Linked DNA regions of Homo sapiens: regions 1 and 2 are each reported to be linked to region 3. Evidence: microRNA targets listed by miRTarBase, many of them from high-throughput screens and not tested one by one. Region 3 holds a microRNA gene; each other region holds the end of a gene's coding sequence.

Region 1 (4,139 bases), not on the chromosome of region 3:
TAAGGGGTGGAACCCCTCTTGTTACGCCAGTCCCCATATGTGTGGTGCTGTGGGCACCTGACCTTATGCCCTGTGCCCTCTGCCAGGAATACCCTCCTACTGCTCTGCCTGGCTGGCTCCACACCCCAGGCGCCACCTCCTCCAGGAAGCTCTCCTTGCCTGACCACTGGGCTGCTCCCAAGCATCTCTTGCTCTGCTCCCTTGGGGACCTGGTTGGGTGTGTGGTCACTCATCTGCCTCTCCCCGGCCACAAGAGCCTGCGGGCTGTGCAAGGACTCCATCTAGCTCCAGGGCTGCTGCATAGTAGGGGGTGTGGGATGAATGAGCGAGTGAATGAATGAATGAATGAATGAATAAGTCCTGCAGTAGATTCCAGGAAGTGTGTCCAGCTTAGGAGTTGCAGAGGCTGAGATGTTGTGGCCGAATGCCGGGAAAGGGCAGGCGCTGACAGGTTTCCATGGCTCATCAAACACTGACCCCGGGACCGTTTTTGTCGAGAAGACCCCACCTGTTCGGCCTTGGCAGGAGGGTTCCTGGCAGCACTCCTGGCCCGGCTCTGGCAGTGGCTGCACTCTGGGAGGTGGGGGCCTTTGGCTCTCCCTGAGCCCGTGTCACTGAGCAGCTGGCTCTGCGTGTCACTGGGGAGGGGGTTTGCAGGAAAGGCCTCTGTCCTCACTGTTTTTTTTTTTTTTTTGAGACGGAGTCTCGCTCTGTCGCCCAGGCTGGAGTGCAGTGGCGCGATCTCGGCTTGGCTCACTGCAAGCTCTGTCTCCTGTGTTCACGCCATTCTCCTGTCTCAGCCTCCCGAGTAGCTGGGACTACGGGTGCCCACCACCACGCCTGGCTAATTTCTTTTTGTATTTTTAGTAGAGATGGGGTTTTACCGTGTTAGCCAGGATGGTCTCGATCTCCTGACCTCGTGATCTGCCCGCCTCAGCCTGGGATTACAGGTGTAAGCCACCGCGTCTGGCTGTCCTCACTGTCTTTACAACCTCTATGGTAATGACCAGAGAGTCCTGGGCCTCAAGGCCCAGCCAGTGTGACCCTGGGGAGGGCACATCTGCTGGTGCTGCAGGCGGGCACTGGGGGCCAGAGGCAGGCCTGTTGCTTGCCAAGTGCCGTCCTGGAGCAACGAGCTGTTCCACAGCCACCCGTGTGCTCAGCCACCCTCCTTCCTGTCCCTGCTTCCCCACCCAGTGCTGTTTTGTGTGCTTCTCAGGCACCATCTCCTTTCAGGCAGGCTCAGCTGGTCTCTCCTCCAGGCTGGGGGCCACGGGACAGAGAGACTGAGCTGGGTTGGCCCCACATCTGTCTGACAAGTGGACATTACCAGCCAGAGCAGGAGTGCTCTTCCGGCAGAGCCTCTGGCACCACGGTGGTGCAGGCACCCGGCCTCATGCCTCATCCCCAAACACTCATGGGGCCACTGCAACCTGTCCATCCTAATCCAGACACGCCCATGTCTTTCAGGGAACATTTCTCTCAGAAACCACTGGTTTTTAGCAAAACTGGGGAGGCTTGGGAGACATGTGGCTCCCCTGTGTCCTGACCAGCAGTGGCCTTGGGCAAGTCACCTGAGTATTGGACCCAGGGCACCCCTCCTAAGACCCTAAACAGGAGGCATCACTGCTTTTTACAGGGGAGGAGATGGAGGTCCTGGGAGGTTAAGTGACCTGGCCAGAGTCACACAGCCGGTGAGGGGAGAAGCTGGTTGGTGTTGGCTCACTCCTCCCTGGGGCCAGGGTCTCACCAGGGCCCTGCCAATAGATGCTGTGGCTGGGTGGACAATGACAGCAGCAGCTGTCACTGACTCCATTTGTCACCCCTCATTGCACTTGCGTCACAGGTGCAGTAGAGCGACGAGGAGTCATATTAGTTGCCCAAGGCAACAGGCTAGTGAGCTATGTGGCCTCTGTGGGTGGCTCACCCCCACTGGCCATAGCCAGCCAGGTGAGCAGGGGAGGGCAGGGGTGGGGCCCAGGCCAGCAGGAGTCGAGACCGGGAGAGGAAGCCTACTTGAGGTCATGGTGCACCCGGGTACCTGAGTGGGACTCGAGCCCAGGCCTCCAGCCTCCAGGGTGGGAACCGTAGTTCCCTCATTTGTAAAATGGTCCCTCTGTATGTGTGTGGAAAGCACCAAGAGTCAGGACAGACTCGCTGTATCAGAGTCACCCTATGGCCTTGGACAAGTCATGTTCTCCTCTCCTAAGCCTCAGTTTCCCTACTTGCAAAATAAGGATGGGCCGGTAGAATGAGCCCAGGGCTCCCTTGCAGCTCGGCCTCTGCCCTGGGCCTCATGTGAATGGGGCCCGACCTGGCTCCCAGCCTGTGCTCCCCGTCACTACACAGCACCACTAAGCACCCCACGGCCAGCCCCTCCTCTGAAAAGCGAGGACAACCTCTGCTTGCATTCTCCATCAGCTGCTGGAAATGAGAAATGTGGTGTGAGAGGGAGCCCGCACCAGGATGCTGCTAAGGGCTCTCCCAGCACAAGCCCATTCCTGGGAGCTGTGGCACAACACCATGGGGTTCCTGGGACTGTGCGCTTTCATCCCCAAATTTTGACTCCAGCAGACTCAAGGTCATCCACAGAAGGGTGAGGGGAGGGGTCTCTGCTCCCTCCTCAGACCTCCCAGACAGAGCACAATGACAAGAGCAGGAGCCAAGGAAGTTTATTTACTCTACTGGGTGACAGGAGGGCAGAGTGCTCCAGAGGAGACCCAGATACATCAACCAAGGACTTCCCTGAGATTTGGCTTTGCTCTTCCAGGCCTGCACATGCTGCGTGATGAAATGAGGCCTGCCTAGACATCTGTGAGGGCCTCGAGGGCTGCTGCCTCGACTTTCTCCCTAGCTAAGTCCACCCGTCCAGGGACACAGCCAGGGCACTGCTCTGTGCTGACTTCCACTGCAGCCAAGGGTCAAAATGAAGCATCTGCGGAGGCCAGGACTCCTTGGCATCGGACACAGTCAGGGGAAAAGCCACCCTGACTCTGCAGGACAGAGGGTCTAGGGTCATTTGGCAGGAGAACACTGGTGTGCCAAGGGAAGCGAGCATGATTTCTGGAGTGGACTACATGCATGGTCTGGAGTTCAGTAAACTGGAAAGTTTCACCCCCAAGTCTTAATTTAATCAAAATTGCTGAACTCTGTTCAATCTTCATTGTTAAAAGCAGCTTTAAAGCTGGGTGATTTCTTAGTCAAATGTATAACGAAGCTTTTACTTATCAATTTCTTTTTGGGAGGGGGCATGGGCTGAAATACATCTTGTGCTCAATAAACCTCCCCACATCAATATTTCAAAGCACTTTCTAGGTTACAATAATGACATTTCAATTCCATATACGCATACATAGAATATATATTTTTAAACAGAGTGGGTCTTAAGAGTATACTTGGAACCCTCGGAGTCCTCCATGGACAAGAACAGGGTGGCCCATGGACTTCCAGCCAAAGGCTCCACTGTGGGGCTGCTTTGGGGAGAGACTCACAGCTGGACTTCTCTATCCGACCATGCAATGTTAGCCAGCACCAATTACCCACAATGCTTTGCCCATAAGAGATAGAAATAATGGAACTCACAGGAAGAAACAGTATTGATAACATACACAGGCTTACAGAGGCCAGGCCCAGTAATTACCATGAGACAGAAGCCTACAGGTGGCGGTGCTTTGACTGGGCTGGGATTATTGATACATTACTGATACATCACTTCTTTTATAAGCATATGTAAAACGAGTGCTACTGAAAGTCGAAGGACAGCTTCCGGGGAGTCATGAACTCTTTCACTATCTCATCCGTGACCTCCTTGCGCCGGGCCTGGTGCTCTGCGATCAAGGGCTGCAGAACCTCTATGAGTGCCTTCTTGAGCTCACCGGTGAGCATGGCTCCGCTGGTGTAATCCTGCCCGGAGGGAGACAGCCACGTGAGAGATGGCTCCACATGTCCTGAGTGGCTCCTTCCTGCCTCGGGCACCAGCTCAGCCCACACCACCCATGCAGAGCCTGGCACGTGGGTGGCACTCAGAAGTGAGATCTGTTGTTACCACAACAATAACCTATACCTTCAGCTACACTTTTCCTAAAACGGCTAGAAACCTGGCTCTGACGATAGCCATGACTTGGCCTCTCACAGTGAAA
Region 2 (4,139 bases), not on the chromosome of region 3:
GAGGGCGGGGCTCGCTGCCCCCTGCTGCCGACTGCGACCCTTACAGGGGAGGGAGGGCGCAGGCCGCGCGGAGATGAGGAGGAGGCTGCGCCTACGCAGGGACGCATTGCTCACGCTGCTCCTTGGCGCCTCCCTGGGCCTCTTACTCTATGCGCAGCGCGACGGCGCGGCCCCGACGGCGAGCGCGCCGCGAGGGCGAGGGAGGGCGGCACCGAGGCCCACCCCCGGACCCCGCGCGTTCCAGTTACCCGACGCGGGTGCAGCCCCGCCGGCCTACGAAGGGGACACACCGGCGCCGCCCACGCCTACGGGACCCTTTGACTTCGCCCGCTATTTGCGCGCCAAGGACCAGCGGCGGTTTCCACTGCTCATTAACCAGCCGCACAAGTGCCGCGGCGACGGCGCACCCGGTGGCCGCCCGGACCTGCTTATTGCTGTCAAGTCGGTGGCAGAGGACTTCGAGCGGCGCCAAGCCGTGCGCCAGACGTGGGGCGCGGAGGGTCGCGTGCAGGGGGCGCTGGTGCGCCGCGTGTTCTTGCTGGGCGTGCCCAGGGGCGCAGGCTCGGGCGGGGCCGACGAAGTTGGGGAGGGCGCGCGAACCCACTGGCGCGCCCTGCTGCGGGCCGAGAGCCTTGCGTATGCGGACATCCTGCTCTGGGCCTTCGACGACACCTTTTTTAACCTAACGCTCAAGGAGATCCACTTTCTAGCCTGGGCCTCAGCTTTCTGCCCCGACGTGCGCTTCGTTTTTAAGGGCGACGCAGATGTGTTCGTGAACGTGGGAAATCTCCTGGAGTTCCTGGCGCCGCGGGACCCGGCGCAAGACCTGCTTGCTGGTGACGTAATTGTGCATGCGCGGCCCATCCGCACGCGGGCTAGCAAGTACTACATCCCCGAGGCCGTGTACGGCCTGCCCGCCTATCCGGCCTACGCGGGCGGCGGTGGCTTTGTGCTTTCCGGGGCCACGCTGCACCGCCTGGCTGGCGCCTGTGCGCAGGTCGAGCTCTTCCCCATCGACGACGTCTTTCTGGGCATGTGTCTGCAGCGCCTGCGGCTCACGCCCGAGCCTCACCCTGCCTTCCGCACCTTTGGCATCCCCCAGCCTTCAGCCGCGCCGCATTTGAGCACCTTCGACCCCTGCTTTTACCGTGAGCTGGTTGTAGTGCACGGGCTCTCGGCCGCTGACATCTGGCTTATGTGGCGCCTGCTGCACGGGCCGCATGGGCCAGCCTGTGCGCATCCACAGCCTGTCGCTGCAGGCCCCTTCCAATGGGACTCCTAGCTCCCCACTACAGCCCCAAGCTCCTAACTCAGACCCAGAATGGAGCCGGTTTCCCAGATTATTGCCGTGTATGTGGTTCTTCCCTGATCACCAGGTGCCTGTCTCCACAGGATCCCAGGGGATGGGGGTTAAGCTTGGCTCCTGGCGGTCCACCCTGCTGGAACCAGTTGAAACCCGTGTAATGGTGACCCTTTGAGCGAGCCAAGGCTGGGTGGTAGATGACCATCTCTTGTCCAACAGGTCCCAGAGCAGTGGATATGTCTGGTCCTCCTAGTAGCACAGAGGTGTGTTCTGGTGTGGTGGCAGGGACTTAGGGAATCCTACCACTCTGCTGGATTTGGAACCCCCTAGGCTGACGCGGACGTATGCAGAGGCTCTCAAGGCCAGGCCCCACAGGGAGGTGGAGGGGCTCCGGCCGCCACAGCCTGAATTCATGAACCTGGCAGGCACTTTGCCATAGCTCATCTGAAAACAGATATTATGCTTCCCACAACCTCTCCTGGGCCCAGGTGTGGCTGAGCACCAGGGATGGAGCCACACATAAGGGACAAATGAGTGCACGGTCCTACCTAGTCTTTCCTCACCTCCTGAACTCACACAACAATGCCAGTCTCCCACTGGAGGCTGTATCCCCTCAGAGGAGCCAAGGAATGTCTTCCCCTGAGATGCCACCACTATTAATTTCCCCATATGCTTCAACCACCCCCTTGCTCAAAAAACCAATACCCACACTTACCTTAATACAAACATCCCAGCAACAGCACATGGCAGGCCATTGCTGAGGGCACAGGTGCTTTATTGGAGAGGGGATGTGGGCAGGGGATAAGGAAGGTTCCCCCATTCCAGGAGGATGGGAACAGTCCTGGCTGCCCCTGACAGTGGGGATATGCAAGGGGCTCTGGCCAGGCCACAGTCCAAATGGGAAGACACCAGTCAGTCACAAAAGTCGGGAGCGCCACACAAACCTGGCTATAAGGCCCAGGAACCATATAGGAGCCTGAGACAGGTCCCCTGCACATTCATCATTAAACTATACAGGATGAGGCTGTACATGAGTTAATTACAAAAGAGTCATATTTACAAAAATCTGTACACACATTTGAAAAACTCACAAAATTGTCATCTATGTATCACAAGTTGCTAGACCAAAATATTAAAAATGGGATAAAATTATACATTTTTCTTCTCAGTTCTTTTCAAAAGGATTAATATTTTTAAAGCACATATATGCTACTTTCCATTAGCAAGACCCATGAAGGGACTGAGCAGCCCAGCCTTCCTTGAGCCCCCAGAGGCTTTGAGCCATGAAATGGCCCAGCCAGGGGCCAGTGCCCAGGGTTGGGGCAGAGAGCCAGCCCACAGTGCAGAACAGAATGCTGAAACACAACAAAAGTAGGAAGATGTCTTTGGCTAAAACTTTGGCATTAAATAAAAGAGGCAAACAGGATGGAAACATGCAGCCCTGCCAGCCAGGATGGGGCAGAGCAGGGGCACAGGCAATCTTGAAAGCTGACTCCAACAGGGGTGAGAACCAGGCCTGGGCATGTACCTGGATGGTAGAAAGCTGTGTTTCAACCAGTTTGGTGTGCCCAGGCAGGGAGCGCGTGCAAGAAAGGAACAGGGAAGGGCAGGTGGGCCACCCTGGCCACAGCCAGCTCATCAAGTAACTAAAGTGGATGTAGTGCAAATGTCGCAACCAAGTACTATGGACACGCTACCTGCTTGCCTTAAGGGTCATGTGGCAATGTGGAGCCAAAGGCAGGACCTTGTCCTTATCCTGGGTGCCTGTGTCCTCAGTCACAGAAAGAGCCCCAAGTCTTCCCAATGTGCATGGGACAAGGGTTGACCTCTCCTGCCTCCTTGTTAGTTGAGAGCTCCTGGGTCCAGGAATCAAGGCTCAAACTTTGTGCTTCTCTTTGCAGTCTGTGTCCCCTGCTGGCACCAGCAGGCCAAAGATGGACAGAAGAATATCTGGGCCACTCAGCCCATGGCAGAGCACCCAGCCTGAGCCCAACCTCAGAACATCACAACAGCCCTTCAGCACTGGCCAGGTGTCCAAGAAAACCCACAGGGTGGTACAGAGGCCCACTGAGCAGGATGTGATGCACAGTTCCACGGGACAGAGGGGCATGGGTGGTGGTGTCCCTAGGGGAGTTCCGCTGTTCTCAGGTGGCTACCAGGCCTGGGGGGGCCATACAGGGTCACCGAGGCAATGTGGTTGTTCTGCATGACCTGGTGTGAGAAGAGGACAGTGGGTCAAGGGGGAGAGGTAAAGGGATGTAGGCAGATCCTGTGCATGAGGGCTGGAGGTTGTGTGACATACCTGCACCTAATGGCTGGGTTTCCCGACTCCTCAACCTCCCCTGGTTCATGCTAAAGGCCCCCCTCTGCCTGAGATCTGCCTGTTTCTCAATGGTTACACACAGCCTTTACCATGGCCACGTGTCCAGTCCTTCTGGAACTGTTAAGTGTCTGCTGGAGATACTGCATCCACAGGGAAAACAAGGGCAGCTTGCTGTTCTCCCAAGTCAGCAGGGCCTCCAGAGCCACTCACTCCCCTACAATGCATTTGTTCACATGCCACTGGAGGGCCCCCAACACCCTCTGCTGGGCCCCACTTGCCCTGTGGTTCCCTTCCCTGCTATAATCATGTTGTCAGATAGAAACTTGGGATCCGTTACCTCCCATCTTGTTGGACACAGACCACTGCTTCGGCCTCTGTGACCCCAGATTTCTCAACATCATTTCTGAACCTTCATTGTTAAGTGTGGGGAGGCCAGGTATGCAGCAGACACGGTTGCTGAAGAAGGATGAATCTGCCCACTATGGCAGTGATGCCCTCCCCAATTTCCCTCCA
Region 3 (4,281 bases):
TGTCATACACGGTCTCAGCTGTGGCCTGGGGGACATGGGAGCACTGGATGAGGACAGCTGGCTGGGGCACACGTCAGCCCCAGGCCCCCAGGACAGTCTGAGACCCCACCAGCCCTCAGCCTCCCTGCCTGTCACTGTGCTGGCCTAGGGGGTCCTGCTCAGCCTCACTCCCCACTTCCTCCCACTCTTCCTCCCCTTCCTAGGCACCTGCCACTCTGCTGAGGGAACCTAGGAACGTGGGACTCCTCAGGGGACTTTCCTAAAGTCTTCTCAACCCAAACCTCTCTTCCTGCTGACCACCACATTCAGCAGGTTCCACATGGCTGCCGCAGCTGCACGCCTGAGACTGACCGCTCCTTGCCTGGCCCCCCAGACGCCCCTGCCAGATGGTCAGAGGCCCATCCTTCCTTCTGTCTGCCAGATCCTCTGCCCAGCATCTCACCTGGCATCACTCTTTCCCACCTGACTGAACACTCCCGGGGGCTCCCTGGTGCCCATGCATCCCTCCCACCTCCCCTGGAGCCCTGCCCTCTGTCCTGTTGGGGTCTGAGCTTGCAGGTTCCAGAATGCACCATGCACCTGCACTCACCCCTTAGCCGCCTAGGACCATCGATCCCCTACAGAATTCATCTGACAACTGCCCACGAGACTGGCTCCCCAGCTTCCCTGGGGTCCTTCTGGCCTAGCGAAGCGTATGGCCTGAATGAACCAGGGCAGCCTCTGCGCCTCAGATTCTTAGTCTGCAAACACAGCCGTCCTCCACCCCCCTTTACAAGACATGCCATGAGCAGGAGACACAGTGGGCTCTGAAGGCCTGGGGGGCACTCCCGCTCCTGCATGGGAGCCCCTGTGGGCCTCGGGAGACCTGGCTTGGAGGTCCCAGGCAAGTCACTTAGCCTCTCCGTGGCTGTTTCTCTATAAAGTAGGGCTGTCATACCCAGACTGCCCACTCTGAGGAGCTTTGAGGACAGAACCAGGGAGCTGTGGTGCAGAGGGCTCCAGCTGCTCTGTCCTGCACAGCCCAGATACAGGGCACCCACTCACCTGGATAGCCTGTACCAACCGGTTGCTGAGTTCCAGGGCGGCAGAGGCTGTGGATGAGCCAAAGGAGGCAGCCCCTCGCTGCAGCCCCCGCATGAGGCGGCCATCCTTCCTGTACTGCTCAATGGGCAGCCACAGCAGGTCCCGGAACCCTTGGACTAGGGGGAAGGAGCGCTCAGAGACACCCGAGGCTGCCCTGCCCCCACCTCCTCCTCTTATTCCCAATGGCAGCTTCTAGGTTGCCCAAGGGTAAAAGCAGTTTCGAGGGCTTCCAAACCTAGACACTCACAGAGCTGGACAACCGAGTGCATGGGGCCCACGCCTCCCAGCAGGCCGGGCAGCTGGTTCTTGCGGATGTCCTGCAGCCACTCGTTGAGGGCATAGCCCAGCACCTTGTCCACACCCAGGAGCCTGGCAGGGCAGGGAGGTGAGGAGGCAGAAGGTGAGGCAGAGCCACACATGGAGGGATTGTGGGGTCAGGAGGACTCAGTACCCCTGTGGCAAGTACTGTGGGCACTCTACCCTCCCTGTGGTCCCACCCAGTCATGTGCAGAGGGACTGTGTCCTTTTTTTTTTTTTTTAGATGGAGTCTTGCTCCGTTGCCCAGGCTGGAGTGAAGTGGTGCGATCTTGGCTCACTGCAACCGCCTCCCAGGTTCAAGCAGTTCTCCTGCCTCAGCCTCCTGAGTAGCTGGGATTACATGTGTATGCCACCACGCCTGGCTAATTTTTGTATTTTTAGTAGAGACGGGGGGGTTTCACCATGTTGGTCAGGCTGGTCTCGAATGCCTGAATGTGTGAGCCATCATGCCCAGCCAACTGCGTCCTTTTTACAGAGGAGAAACTGAGGCCCTGAGAAGGGTGATGACTTGGCCAAGGCCACACAACCAGTCAGGACCAGAACAGAAGGAAGATCAGGGACCCTGGAGAGAGGCTGGGGTGCTGGGGACTCACCCGTGCCTGCAACAGAGCCGCTTTAGCTTCAGCTCGGAGCAGTTGAGTTGGGCCAGGCCGATGAGGAGGCCAGCAAAAGTGCCCTGGGAGAGGGAGGGGGTCCAGGTTTACCCAATGGGACTCAGGGAGCTAGCTAGCCCATGGGAGCCACTGGAGAGCGCCCTGGCTGCTAACAGTGCCTGGATGCAAGACCTGGCCCCCAGAGGGACTCAGCCACAGCTGACCCCACATGGCCACCCCATCCGACCGCCCCACTTACCACCTGGTCCATCGTGACGTGCTTGCCATGGTAATCCAGCCAGATGGGGACCTCAGACGTGAAGCGGAACTCTCTGGGTAGGGGAGCAGGAAGAGGGGGTTCTTTGCTCACTGGCCTGGCCCCCAGCAATCTGGCCCAGGGCCCCCCACCCGCAGTCCAGCAGCCTACCTGAAGTAGATGGGCTGCTGGTCAGGAGGGGAGGGGCTGTGTCCACCTCCTGGGGCCTCCTGCGAACCAGTGGTCTCTACGCCTTCGGCCTGCCCTTCCAGGGGGCTGCTGGGCTGGGCTCGAGTCTCGGGGCGAGCTAGGGGAGGGGAGGTCACAGACTGGGGATGGGGCCAGGAATGACTGGGAACCTGTGCTGTCCTGGGAGGCAGAAGGCCCAGACGCTCCCCTCCCTGGCCCAGCCTCTCACCCTCAGCGGAGGTCTCCCCTGGGACCACGGGGTTGATGCCGGCCACCAGACTAGTGAAGAAGTCCTTGAGGAAGAAGAGGGCATCCTGCAAGGGAGAGGTCCAGATGTGGATCAGACTCAGAGGCCTGGAGACAGTGGGGTCACCCTAGGCTCTGCCCTCACGTAGACCACTCACCTGGTCCACATTGAGCCGCAGGGGCATCAGCGAGACGCGGAGACAGCACTCAGGCCCACCCAGGTTGGTAGTGGGGGCCACATGCAGCGCTTTGATGGTGAGCTGGGAGCAGAGGGTGAGTTCTGGACACCTGCTGGGCCTCTGGGGCAGCAGCTCACCCAGCTGTTCCCTGACAGCTCACCCAGCCACCCTGCCTCTGAACACGCTGTTCCCTTCGCTAACACAGCCCCTAGCTCTGCCCTTCTCCCAGGCTCACAAACAACCTGGGTGTTTGTGTGGGAATGCGTGTATGTGTGTGAATCCATGCATGCGTGAAGATGTATCCCCAACGGTCTGGTGCCCTGCCCCAGGGTGGATGGTGCAGGTCGCTCATACCATGTTAGAGTGGGCACGTCGCGGCATCCGCTCACTCGTGTGTAGGTACAGGAACTTGTTGATCTGGGAGGAGGCGAGCCGGTCTCGGACCTCCAGCTCCTGCACGATGAACACCTGACGGGACAGCGGTCGCTCCTCCAGCTCCTGGCTGGGGGCCGCAGGGCCTGTGGCTGGCTCCGCTGGGTACACCTCGTGCTGGAAGCTTACCTGTGGGGTGGACAGAGGCCTGGCCAGGTAAGCAGGGCCCCAAGAGGGAGGGAAGGGCTGGCCCCAGACCCCTTCTCTATTCTTTTTTTGAGACAGAGTCTCACTCTGTCGCCCAGGTTGGAGTGCAGTGGCGTGATCTCGGCTCACTGCAACCTCTGCCTCTCGGGTTCAAGCGATTCTCCTGCCTCAGCTTCCCCAGTAGCTGGGATTGCAGGCATGTGCCACCACACCCAGCTAATTTTAGTAGAGACAGGGTTTCACAACGTTGGCCAGGCTGGTCTCGAACTCCTGGCCTCAAGTGATCTGCCTGCCTCGTCCTCCCAAAGTGCTGGGACTACAGGCATGAGCCACCATGCCCGGCCCCTACCCCTTCTCTATTCTATGCCCAGCAGGGACCTGCCTCTCCCTCCAGACCTGACCCTGCTCTTGCTTCCCATGCCAGCTGCACTGGTCTCTGCCCCTCAAGGAGTCCAGGCCTGTTTTGCCTTCAGGACTTTGCTCTCGTAGCCCCTCTCCGTGGAGAGCCTTCCTTCCCCCTCTTCCTGCACACCCGCTGGCTGGCCATCAGGTCTCAGAGAGGCCCCTGGCCCCCTGCTCTGACACTCATCTCCCGCAGGTTCTTGCAGCACAGCCCACCAACCCGAGCAGCCTGAGGCCCCTCTGCCCTTTGCCTCTAGCGGCTCCTTGGGAAGCCCAGCACTGGCCTGGCTCACTCTGAGCAAGTGGGACCCCCCTGCCCCAGGCAATTTCCCAGGCCCAAACCTTGAACCCTCTGTACCACTCTCTGTATCTCACACACCCCATCCGCAGCTGAACCTGTGGCCAGCCCCCATCTAGGCTCTCCTGAACCTGCTCA

Evidence for each region. The annotated mature microRNA hsa-miR-6750-3p reads GAACUCACCCUCUGCUCCCAG and lies in region 3 at 2,946-2,966, opposite strand. An mRNA with a match to its seed (bases 2 to 7 or 8) in the 3' UTR can be bound and repressed. Matches are read on the target gene's strand: a 7mer-m8 pairs with bases 2 to 8, a 7mer-A1 pairs with bases 2 to 7 and ends in A, and an 8mer does both.
Region 1: miRTarBase lists WARS1 as a target of hsa-miR-6750-3p. Seed matches in the 3' UTR shown: 7mer-m8 at 3,576-3,582.
Region 2: miRTarBase lists PHAF1 as a target of hsa-miR-6750-3p. Seed matches in the 3' UTR shown: 7mer-m8 at 2,388-2,394.

Annotation. Positions count from the first base shown.
Region 1 is chr14:100,331,134-100,335,272 of GRCh38, forward strand. It overlaps WARS1 (tryptophanyl-tRNA synthetase 1), which reads right to left. Exons shown (of 11, transcript NM_004184.4): 11 at 2,657-3,903. The coding sequence ends at 3,742. Among named protein-coding and RNA genes, the nearest start is that of SLC25A47, 9.9 kb to the left of the region's middle. RefSeq lists an enhancer at 1,814-1,863.
Region 2 is chr16:67,146,420-67,150,558 of GRCh38, reverse strand. PHAF1 (phagophore assembly factor 1) reads right to left here. Exons shown (of 16, transcript NM_025187.5): 16 at 2,015-3,514. The coding sequence ends at 3,428. B3GNT9 (UDP-GlcNAc:betaGal beta-1,3-N-acetylglucosaminyltransferase 9) reads left to right here. Exons shown (of 2, transcript NM_033309.3): 2 at 1-2,455. The coding sequence starts at 74. The coding sequence ends at 1,282. Among named protein-coding and RNA genes, the nearest start is that of B3GNT9, 2.5 kb to the left of the region's middle. RefSeq lists a silencer at 1-205.
Region 3 is chr11:64,895,418-64,899,698 of GRCh38, forward strand. It overlaps MIR6750 (microRNA 6750), which reads right to left and starts at 3,020; the gene lies at 2,946-3,020. ATG2A (autophagy related 2A) reads right to left here. Exons shown (of 41, transcript NM_015104.3): 32 at 3,219-3,425; 33 at 2,844-2,945; 34 at 2,669-2,753; 35 at 2,422-2,557; 36 at 2,254-2,326; 37 at 1,995-2,077; 38 at 1,331-1,452; 39 at 1,045-1,199; 40 at 1-25.